Linked DNA regions of Homo sapiens. The protein of the gene in region 1 interacts with the protein of each later gene in a biochemical or structural test. Each region holds a gene or a part of one and is shown in the gene's direction. Other genes may lie near its edges.

Region 1 (3,655 bases):
TGAATTAACTATATTCTTAAGAAAAAAGGTAGGTGATCAAAATGTTGATCATTTAAATAATATCAGTACACAAAGTACTCTTTTTAAGTTCTATATTTTATAACATGTGACAAAATAAAAAGCTTAATGCTTAAAGGGAAAAAAAACTGCCAACTATAATTTTGAATGATGGTTTAAGTATTTTTTTCACATCTTTTTTTATAGTAGGTATAAACAACTAACTTAAGTGTTGTTTTCCAAAGTGTATTTATATGCCTACCTTATGTTCTTGTTACCATAAATGTCTGTAAGAGAGGTTCTAATTAGTAGCTTTACTTACTTTTTTTGTGCCAGTCCACCAACTTATTCTTAAATCAGATTCACTAGATTTTAGTGTAATTTCTGTTTTCATGGTCAGGGCTGCCTCCGTTGTCTTGAATAGTGCCATCACCGTTAAAATTTTTGGATTTAGAGTATAATGAGCCTCTTTTTGCTTACAGGCAAAGGGGAGCCTATAACTAAACAAAATGAGGAGAGGCCCCTCACCTAGACACTATGATTCTTTCCCTTGCATCCTTTGAGAGAAATGCTAGGGAGAGACATTGGAGAGAGTGGTTAAGAGCACACACTCTACTCCCAGGGACTATCCAGTAAGGTGGGGAAGTTCTATAAATTCTAATAAAGTCAAAGAAAAAAATGAACCCATTATAGAATCTAAAAATTACCATTCCAAAGATTTTCAGTAGCTCACTGTCTCCCAGACATCTGAGAATCAGACTCAATTAAAAATTTCAATAATAGAGTAACCATGGGAATGTTATTTTGTTCAGGCAAAATAACAGAATACCTTAGGCAGCTTTTTTCTAAATATTCTGCTAAAAAATGTCTGCATGCTTTTATGGCAGTTTGCTTTAATGAAATACTATTCGGTATTGGTTTATTGAACAGCTTTTGGTATTTCTACACATTACTTTTAATTATAAGCAATTTCCAGCTAAGACTTTTCAAGGTAAATAAATGAAATAAAATTCCTGTGGACTTTTTCTTAAAAATTTAACATCCCACAGGATCTGCTTCTGTATCATCTATAAGTTTAACCAAAGGCACTGATGAAGTGCCTGTCCCTCCTCCTGTTCCTCCACGAAGACGACCAGAATCTGCCCCAGCAGAATCTTCACCATCTAAGGTAAAGTAAGAAATCTTGTTGTGTAGAAATTGGAATCATTACAGTTCATTATAATAAACGGCTGTCTAGTTTAGTTCTCACTAGGATAAGTTAACATTTCAGAGTATACAGGCTTAATAGTTTAAACAAGGATTACATATAGATTTAGCATGCAGTAATGTTTCTTTCTTCTGAAGGTAGTTTTTTGGTATGCATTCAAGACCCTTGTAAACCTAAGGCTATGGTTATTTTCAGAAAAAAACAAAAGTTTTAATCTGTAAAGTAAGAGGAATTTGGTTTCAAGCAGTTCTTTAAAAGCATACAGAGAAAGTCCTGAAGCTTTGTATGAAGGCACATTATAAGTCAAACTGTATTTTGACATATGCTAAAATTTACTTATCTGAGCCCTTAATAGTAAATCTGACATACTTTTAAATGGAGTTTTCATGAAAATTCTGGGTTTGGAAGAGACCCCAAAGGCTCAAAATAGCTATTATTTCTACTTATTTAATTTTGTTTTTTTCTTTTTGGCCAGCTGTTAAACTTAATTCATTAGTTCTTAAGCTGTCCAGAGTGCAGAGCACCAGGATAAGTCAAGACAAGACACTCTTTGTAGAACTTCATGAATGTTAACATAGTTAACTTAAAATTATAAAATAGGTACTTTATGCTAAATTAGAAATGATCTTAGATTGAGTGATAAGCTAAGCAAGCAGTAGCAAACAAAATTTTGAGGAAAAAAATTTAAGTAAAAACTACGGCAAACTTTTTTTTTCTATGAATTGACAGAACCTCCCATTTAAAACATATGCCAGCCTTGGCAACAGAGCAAGACCTTGACTCTACAAAAAATGAAAAAAATTAGCCAGGCATGGTGGTACATGCCAGTGGTCCTTGCTGCTTGGGATGCTGAGGTCGGGGGATCACTTGAGCCCAGGAAGTTGAGGCTACAGTGAGCCATGATTGCACCACTGCACTCCAGTCTGGGCAATAGAGCAAGGCATTGTCTCAAAAAAAAAAATTTTTTTTTAATTAAAAAGAAAACATATGGCAAAACTCCCTGTTCCACACTTAGCATCCTGCCAATAGCATGTTTGAAAACCCCAACTTAATTCTTATAGTCATGATACTTCATAAATTTATTAATAAATGTGTATTTTATTCTTTTCATTTGTTAGATTATGTCTAAGCATTTGGACAGTCCCCCAGCCATTCCTCCTAGGCAACCCACATCAAAAGCCTATTCACCACGATATTCAATATCAGACCGGACCTCTATCTCAGACCCTCCTGAAAGCCCTCCCTTATTACCACCACGAGAACCTGTGAGGACACCTGATGTTTTCTCAAGCTCACCACTACATCTCCAACCTCCCCCTTTGGGCAAAAAAAGTGACCATGGCAATGCCTTCTTCCCAAACAGCCCTTCCCCCTTTACACCACCTCCTCCTCAAACACCTTCTCCTCACGGCACAAGAAGGCATCTGCCATCACCACCATTGACACAAGAAGTGGACCTTCATTCCATTGCTGGGCCGCCTGTTCCTCCACGACAAAGCACTTCTCAACATATCCCTAAACTCCCTCCAAAAACTTACAAAAGGGAGCACACACACCCATCCATGCACAGAGATGGACCACCACTGTTGGAGAATGCCCATTCTTCCTGAGTTCCTCTGTACTGGGATGTATATTTTCCTAGCCCCAAATCCATTGCTGGCAATGGATGCACTGAATGTGCCAGCACTGAGGAGTTAAAATGAGAACTCCAAACACTAACGACTCTTCTTCAAGATGCAGTATAAGACAATGAATTTTAACCTAGATGTAATTATACAATGGAAATGGTATTCCAGTTTAGAATATGGAAAGACCGACCTAGAGGAATTGGACAACTGATTGCACCTGAAAATCATAAAGGGACTTTTTCTGGCCAATAGGCAGGAGTCCTCTTTTTGTGAAGTGATCTTTTGTGAAGTGATCATTAAAGGGATGGAAAACACAGTCTAGTGTCCAGCAGGCCCACATGACAGTTTTTGTAATTCAAATTATGCACTTTTAAAAAAAAAAACTTAAACAGGGATCTTAATATCTTCCTTTGTTTTCCTTTGCTTTACTCTTCTACTTTAGAATATTTTCTTAAAAATCACTCAAAGGACTGTGAGGAAAGGCTGTGGTACCTGACCTTGTTGAAATCAAGGCCCGGCACTGTACTACAGGCCTGTTTACAGATTATTACGGTGAACTGAATGGGTACCGAGGCTTCACCAAAGAGGTACTTTTTTGTTGTTGTTGTTGTTTTAGGAATAATTGTACCAATTTTAAGAGCATTCCCCCCACCTGTCCCCACACACCCAAACAAAATGTGGTGGTGTTGCCTTCAAAAAAGAGAAGTTTTGTGTCATTAACATGACAGAAGAACTTTTTAAAAAAAAATAACTGTCAACTATTCTATTTGCATTTAGGAGACTGTTCATCTATGCTAGATTGTCATTTTCCCTCCTTCTCCCA
Region 2 (3,655 bases), on another chromosome or scaffold:
AAAGTCTTTATTCAAACTGTCTGGGAATCCTTAATTCACATTCTGATATTTAAAAAAAATAATACATGGTGTTAAAACACCAGGAGAACAATTTGATATAAAAATAAAAGCATTTCTTTCTACATTTTAGCATGGAAATAACCAGCCTGCAAGAACTGGCACACTGTCGAGAACAAATCCTCCTACTCAGAAACCGCCAAGTCCTCCCATGTCAGGCCGGGGAACACTGGGGTAAGAATTCAACTACATTTTGCAAAAGAATTCATATGCTAAAGGAAAAGATGTTTCTGTGACTTAAGTAAGTGTATGGGATCCATGCCACACTACCCTCTCTATGTGACGCTACCTTTTACAAATTCATTTTAATTCCTATTTTCCTGAACAGAATCCCAAATGAATCTGCCAGCTTTGTAATATTCTCTATAATCTGTACTAGGAAAGTTTTTATGTATGTATAAATGGCATGATTTATTTTTTTGTCATCTAATTTTTAAAAAATATAAATCTGACTTGTTTGTTTTAAATGGAATGATTAGAGTATTCCAAATGGTGCCTTTGCATGTGTTTACAGTATCTATATTGTAGAACTTTGACTAGTGGTCTACTTTTGTGTAGTATGGCTTAGTCCACAGCTCTTCTGTTTCGCCTATTGGTGTCTGAGACTTAGGGACTCTTTACTTTAGGAAAGTATGCACTTTACTTGTAACTATGCTTCTGCTGGTAATCTTAGGCCTCTTCACACTAGAGTAGCTCCATGGGAAGGCCAGTTGGGCAAGTAGAAAAGATAACAGTGGCTTCTTCCTTCCTAGTTCTCAGTGTACTAAATATAGCGAATACTTGTCAAAGCATTATATTTCTTTAAGGTTGTTTTTCTTAATACTGGAAATATTATATTGGATTTCTTATTTTTTGGCAGAGGGGTTGTTCAACAATCAGTCTTCTTTTAAGAAGGTCTTAGTTTTCATTTTTATTCATTAAACCCTCTGCCCCTGAAAAAAAAAATGAAGTTATTAAACAGAATAGTCGAAATCATTTATTGAGAAAGTAATGATTAGAATGTATATCTCCATTTATTGCCATATTGAGATGGGAATAAATTGCAGCTTCCTATGTAAATAAATTTAGCTTCCTGTTTAAAGAACAGTGGCTTATGGGTGACTGTACTGAGAAAAATGTACATTTTAAAGTTTGCTATTATTGAGCATTTAAAAAATTATAACCATAATTTTTAGAAATAAGGTTAGGACTTTAAATTACCCTTTCCTATGTTTTTCCTAGGAAAAGGTAACAAATTTTAGTTTTCATGTTAAAGTAACAAAATTCATATATCCCAGTGAAGAATATTTTTTAAAATTACAAACTTTGTCATATATATTTTTAAATCCTGGTATACATGGTCACAAAGGGAGACTCACATATTTTTGGGAAAAATACAATTTTATCTTTTTTATTCATTATTCCTTTCTCCACTATGCTCCTTTAGACGGAATACTCCTTATAAAACCCTGGAACCTGTTAAACCCCCAACAGTTCCTAATGACTATATGACCAGTCCTGCTAGGCTTGGAAGTCAGCATAGTCCAGGCAGGACAGCATCTTTAAATCAGAGACCAAGGACACACAGGTAAGCCTTTAGGTTGAGTATCTCAACATCTCTAAAGTGGGTGTAACTGACTGGCGACAAACTCCTATGGAGGTGCTGAGTAAAGGTGAGGTGCCACTCTAATGCTAATATAAAATGTAAAAGTTGGGGGAATAATATTATATATGTTCCTGTAAGTTTGTGTTATAACTTCTGTTTTGTTTTGTTTTTTTAACTTTTTAAAACATCTATTTGTACTATTAATGGATTGTTTGTATTTCCTCCTTTTGATAGAGGTACAGACTCTATCAGACTCTACGGGTTAAGACTAAAGAATTTTTTTCTTTTTTTTTTTGTGACGGAGTTTTGCTCTCGTTGCCCAGGCTGGAGTGTAGTGGTGCGATCTCGGCTCACTGCAACCTCTGCCTCCCAGGTTCAAGCGATTTTCCTGCCTCAGCCTCCCAAGTAGCTGGGATTACAGGCCTGAGCCACCACGCCTGGCTAATTTTGAGTTGAGACGGGGTTTCTGCATGTTGGTCAGGCTGGTTTCCAACTCCCAACCTCAGGTGATCCTCCTGCCTCGGCCTCCCAAAGTGCTGGGATTACAGGTGTGAGCCACTGTGCCCAGCCCTAAGAATGTTTTAAAATGCTCTTTTAAAAAAATTCAAGGCAAACCACTCAAATACTTTTGGAGAAAAGATTAAATATCATAGGAATTATACAACGTGATTTAAACTTTCAGAGATTGAAGGAAAGAAGATTAAGCTTAAATCTGAGGGAGATTTTTTTAAGAGAATCAGTATACTAGAATATGTTGTTATAATAATAATATTATTATTATCTTTTTGGAGATGGAGTCTAGCTCTGTCACCCAGGCTGGAGTGCAGTGACGCGATCTCGGCTCACTGCAACTTCTACCACCCAGGCTTAAGCAATTCTCCTGCCTCAGCTTCCAGAGTAGCTGGGATTACAGGTGCATGCCACCACGCCTGGCTAATTTTTGTATTTTAGTAGAGATGAGGTTTCACCATGTTGCCCAGGCTGGTCTCTAACTCCTGACCTCAGGTGATCCACCCACCTCGGCCTCCCAAAGTGTTGGGATTACAGGCATGATCCACCGCTCCTGGCCTTGTATTTATTATTTTTAAATGTCCTAAAAGTCAATTACCCGGTGGGTTTTTAAAAATTTAGTTACAGAGCATAACAAGCATTCAGAAAAGTATCCACTTCAGTAAGTATACAGCTTGATGAATGGACACACACTCATATAACCATCACCCAGATCAGAAAATGGAACATTACCAGCAACCCAGAAGCCCCTCATGCTCCTTCCTGGTTATCGCCTCGACCTTCTTCCCCCAAAATATAGCCACTTCAATTTTTGAGTGCTTTATAAAACCAGATAAATTTATTATATAACCAAATTTGTTTTATTCTTCAGTTTTCTCTCTCACTTAATAACGTGGGCAGGGAACCTCTCTTTTGCCTTCACTCTTAGGTTGGTAAATGAGAGATAACTTATCAAAATGATTTATGGGAATTCCACTAAATAGGGTATATCAAGATGCGAGATGCTAGGTAAGCGGTATTTATTACTATTGGTGCTGTTAGTAAACAAATTGTTAAGTTGATATCTGCAGTTACTGTATCAGGTCAAGTTCTTTGAGGAACAAAATTGTTCTCTTTGTTGTTATTGAACTCTTGGATCAAAGTATAGTTTTTCTCTATAGTGGAAGCATAGTTTAATCATATTCAACAAGCAGTTATTAAGTGTTGTTTCATTAGATACTAGGCATTTGTCAATAGGGCATAGTTCTTTTTTCAAGAGCTCATTCTGTTAGAACAGGGATCAGCAAACTTTTTCTATAAAGGGCCAGATTGTCAATATTTTAGGATTCGTGGGCCATATATATGGTTTCTGATGCAATTACTCAGATCTGTCATTGTAGCACAAAAGCAGCCATTGACAATACGTAAATGAATGTGGCTGTGTTCCAGTAAAACTTTATTTATAGCACTGACATTCTAATTTCATATAATTTTAATGTGTTACAAAATATTATTCCTCTTGAT
Region 3 (3,655 bases), on another chromosome or scaffold:
TCTATCCCCCTCCAGCCACCTACAACAAGCACACCAAGGTGGCAGTGAAGACGATGAAGCCAGGGAGCATGTCGGTGGAGGCCTTCCTGGCAGAGGCCAACGTGATGAAAACTCTGCAGCATGACAAGCTGGTCAAACTTCATGCGGTGGTCACCAAGGAGCCCATCTACATCATCACGGAGTTCATGGCCAAAGGTGCTGCGTGCTGGGGCTGGGGGTGCAGGCTGTGGCCTATACTGGTCAATTGCGGGCCCAAGGGTGGCTTGGACATGGTTCTTGCCCTTGAGATGGCCCCAATCTGGCCAGGAGCTCTTCCAACAAGTACTCATTGAGAATCTAATGTGGAACAATCCAGCCCTCCTGGTTAGTGGGGTGAAATCATGTTAAGGGGTCACCAAGGGGAAGGGAGAACAAGGGGCTACCAGGAGAAGGGAATGGGGCCAGAATACTCCTGGGCAATGGGAGAAGGGGCTTATGGTTCACAGTGAGCCTTAGAGGCCAGGGTGTGGCATGGGTGGTGGGGGTGCCACTCTCCCGCATCAGCCACCTTCCCTGTACTTGCCAAAGCCCTGGGAGAGGGAGCTGGCAAAGCAGCAGTTCTGCCCCCACCCCCGCCCTGCCACAACTCAGGATTTCTTGGGGAATTTTTTTAGGCCACTGTTTCACAACCATTTTCAACCCCTGCCATTTTTTGTTTGTTTGTTTTTTAGGGACAGGAACTTGCTCTGTTACTCAGGCTGGAGTGCAGAGGTGCAATCATAACTCCTGGGCTCAAGTGATCCTCCCACCCCAGCCCCCCGAGTGGCTGGGACCACAGGCCCATGCCACCACACTCAGCTAATTTTATTTATTTATTTACATATTTATTTTTAGAGACAGGGTTGCCCTCTGCCTACCCAGGCTGGAGTGCAGTGGCGTGATCATAGTTCACTGTAGCCTCAAACTCTCAGGCTCCAGGATCCTCCCGACTTAGTCTCCCCAGTAGCTGGCACTACAGGCATGCACTACCACACCCAGCTAATTTCTAAAAAAATTTTTTTTTTTTTTGAGACAGAGTCTCACTCTGTTTCCCAGGCTGGAGTGCAGTGGCACAATCTCGGCTCAATGCAAGCTCCACCTACCAGGTTCACGCCATTCTCCTGCCTCAGCCTCCCAAGTAGCTGGGACTACAGGTGCCTGCCACCATGCCTGGCCAATTTTTTTGTATTTTTAGTAGAGACGGTGTTTCACCGTGTTAGCCAGGATGGTCTCAATCTCCTGACCTTGTGATCCGCCCGCCTCAGCCTCCCACCATGCTGGAATTACAGGCGTGAGCAACTGCGCCCAGCTTCTAAAATTTTTTTCTAGAGACAAGGTCTCGCCATCTTGCCCCAGCTGGTCTCAAACTCCTGGGTTCAACTGATCCTCCCAAAGCTTTGGGATTATAGGCATGAACCACTGAGCCTGGCCTAACATATATATTTGTAAATTTCTTCTATAGATGGGGTCTTGCGATGTTGCCCAGGCTGGTCTCAAACTCTTGGCCTCAGGTGATCCTCTCACCTCGGTCTCCTAAAGTGTTGGAATTACAGGAGTGAGCCTCGTGCCTAGCCACTCTGCCCATTTTTTGATAAACAGAATCATCTCATGCAATCCCATTTAGTGCGATTTGAAACCTCAAGCCTTTTTCATTTTAACTATGCAATTATGCCAGTCCTGTGAAGGCATGATCCCAGCCATCCAGGCTCAGGGGCTGTCTCAGTCACAGAATCCATCTAGCAATCAAAAAGTCACTTCACTAAAACTCAATTCTCTTTCTCAAACACTAGGAATTGCAAACAAATATTCGTATTTAAATCTACTACTATGAAAAATCTTCACCACACACTAAAGTACTAGATTGGTGCAAAAGTAATTGTGGTTTTTGCCATTAAATAGTAAAAGTAGTAAATGTTCCTCCCCTCTCCCCCATATAGGAAGCTTGCTGGACTTTCTGAAAAGTGATGAGGGCAGCAAGCAGCCATTGCCAAAACTCATTGACTTCTCAGCCCAGGTGAGAGCCTAACGAGGAAACGGGGAAGGGAAACAGGAATTCGATTTTTTTACTTGCCAAATATTTACTGACCACATACTATGATGATAGCAGTAATAATAATGGGTAAAATGTATTGAGAGCTCAGTATAAAACTATGTTTTTTGCATATATTTTATTATACATGTACTCATTCATTTAATCATCCTATAAGCTTTATAGGCTGGGATTTTTGTTATCTATTTTGGTATAACAAACCATCCAAGTCCTAGTAGCTTGAAACAACAGCAATTGTTATTTCTCATGATCCTGTGGGTTGCCTGGGTTCAGCTGGGTGGTTCTTCTGCTCGTCATGGTAAAGTGAGGTGCAGATGTTGGCACTTGCCCAGGCTAGAATGTCCAAGACATGGCTCAGCCTCCAGGGTCTCTCCACATAGCCCCTCACCACCCAATCACCCAGCCTGAGCTTCTTCACGGCGCAGCAGCTGGGTTCCAAGACAGAGCTGGACCAGGGGCCAAGCCTTCATGAGCAGGCTCTCATTAAGCCTCTGCCTGCATCAGGCTTGCTAATGGCCCATTGGCCAAGTCACATAGCCATGCCCAGAATCAGTGTGGGAGGGGACTGACCAAGGACACAAATCCCAGGGACCCCCTCAATGTAACAGTCTGGCCACAGAGTAGGTAATTATCATCCCATTTTACAGAATAGGAAATTGAAGCATAGAGCAGAAGTAAAGTACAGATGTGGAAACTGAGCCCCAGTGTGGTTAAGTGGCTTGCACAAGTTACTGTGCTAATTATGGGGGATATAGCAGTGAACAAAATGAAAATGTTCCTGTCCTAATAGAGTTCACAATCCAGGTGGGAAGATGAGTATTAAATAACCAAATCTCTTAGAGACCATGACCCAAGTGGTCCTGGCTGAGTCAAAAGAGCACAGTATCTAACAAAGTAAATAATGTTCACAAATCGCAAAAACACTGCTGAAAACCTAATTTTCTTTCTCATGTTCCCCACGCCCCTTGCAGCTCCTCTCACCCCCAGCCTAAGCAGTTTTTTCACTTCTGTCCTCTCTCATGCTCTCTCTGATGTCTGGGAAAACAGAGTGTAAGGACGGGGTGGTATTAGAGTGCATAGCTAGAGCATTTAGCCTGGTCCAGGAGCAATCAGAGAATGCTTCCTGGAGGAAGTGGCCTCTAGGCCGAGCCTGAAGGATGAATAGAAGTTCAGTAGATGAAGAGAAAAGGTAAAGGTCTTTTAGACAAAAGAAACAGCCTGTGCAAAAGTAGGTGAAGGAGTTCAGCCTACTCAGCAGGAGCCCAGGGATAGTGGGAGTTGAGTGAGACCCTGCCTGGGCCTCAGCTGGGCCTGCTGGAGATGCCAAGGGCAGGGCTCATTTGAGTATGCAAATTCAGGGGCCCAGAGGACACCACAAAGTGTAACAAAAGACTCTACTTTCAGAGCCTGGAATGCCAGAGGCATATGGAAATGTGTTTTCACTCCTATGGGCCAGGTCCTCTGGGAGACAATAGACTGGTCTGTTGCTAAATTATCATCTTCAAACTAGCAGAAGCCCTGCTGGGCAGCAGTCACCGACCAGGGCAAGAGCCACTCTGCCCGTTTCACAGAGGGGAAAACAAACCA

The links.
Region 2: the proteins of SOS1 (region 1) and ABI1 form a complex in vitro, tested with the Homo sapiens proteins (one study listed by BioGRID and IntAct).
Region 3: the proteins of SOS1 (region 1) and HCK interact in a biophysical measurement, tested with the Homo sapiens proteins (one study listed by IntAct).

Annotation. Positions count from the first base shown.
Region 1 is NC_000002.12:38,984,983-38,988,637, reverse strand, and holds part of SOS1 (son of sevenless homolog 1), read left to right. Parts: intron 1-1,046; coding exon 1,047-1,165; intron 1,166-2,322; coding exon 2,323-2,814; 3' UTR 2,815-3,274; coding exon of another isoform or gene 3,275-3,328; 3' UTR 3,329-3,655.
Region 2 is NC_000010.11:26,766,821-26,770,475, reverse strand, and holds part of ABI1 (abl interactor 1), read left to right. Parts: intron 1-130; coding exon 131-231; intron 232-1,483; coding exon 1,484-1,624; intron 1,625-3,655. UniProt on the Homo sapiens protein: May act in negative regulation of cell growth and transformation by interacting with nonreceptor tyrosine kinases ABL1 and/or ABL2. May play a role in regulation of EGF-induced Erk pathway activation. Involved in cytoskeletal reorganization and EGFR signaling.
Region 3 is NC_000020.11:32,086,613-32,090,267, forward strand, and holds part of HCK (tyrosine-protein kinase HCK), read left to right. Parts: intron 1-15; coding exon 16-195; intron 196-1,955; coding exon 1,956-2,032; intron 2,033-3,655. UniProt on the Homo sapiens protein: Non-receptor tyrosine-protein kinase found in hematopoietic cells that transmits signals from cell surface receptors and plays an important role in the regulation of innate immune responses, including neutrophil, monocyte, macrophage and mast cell functions, phagocytosis, cell survival and proliferation, cell adhesion and migration.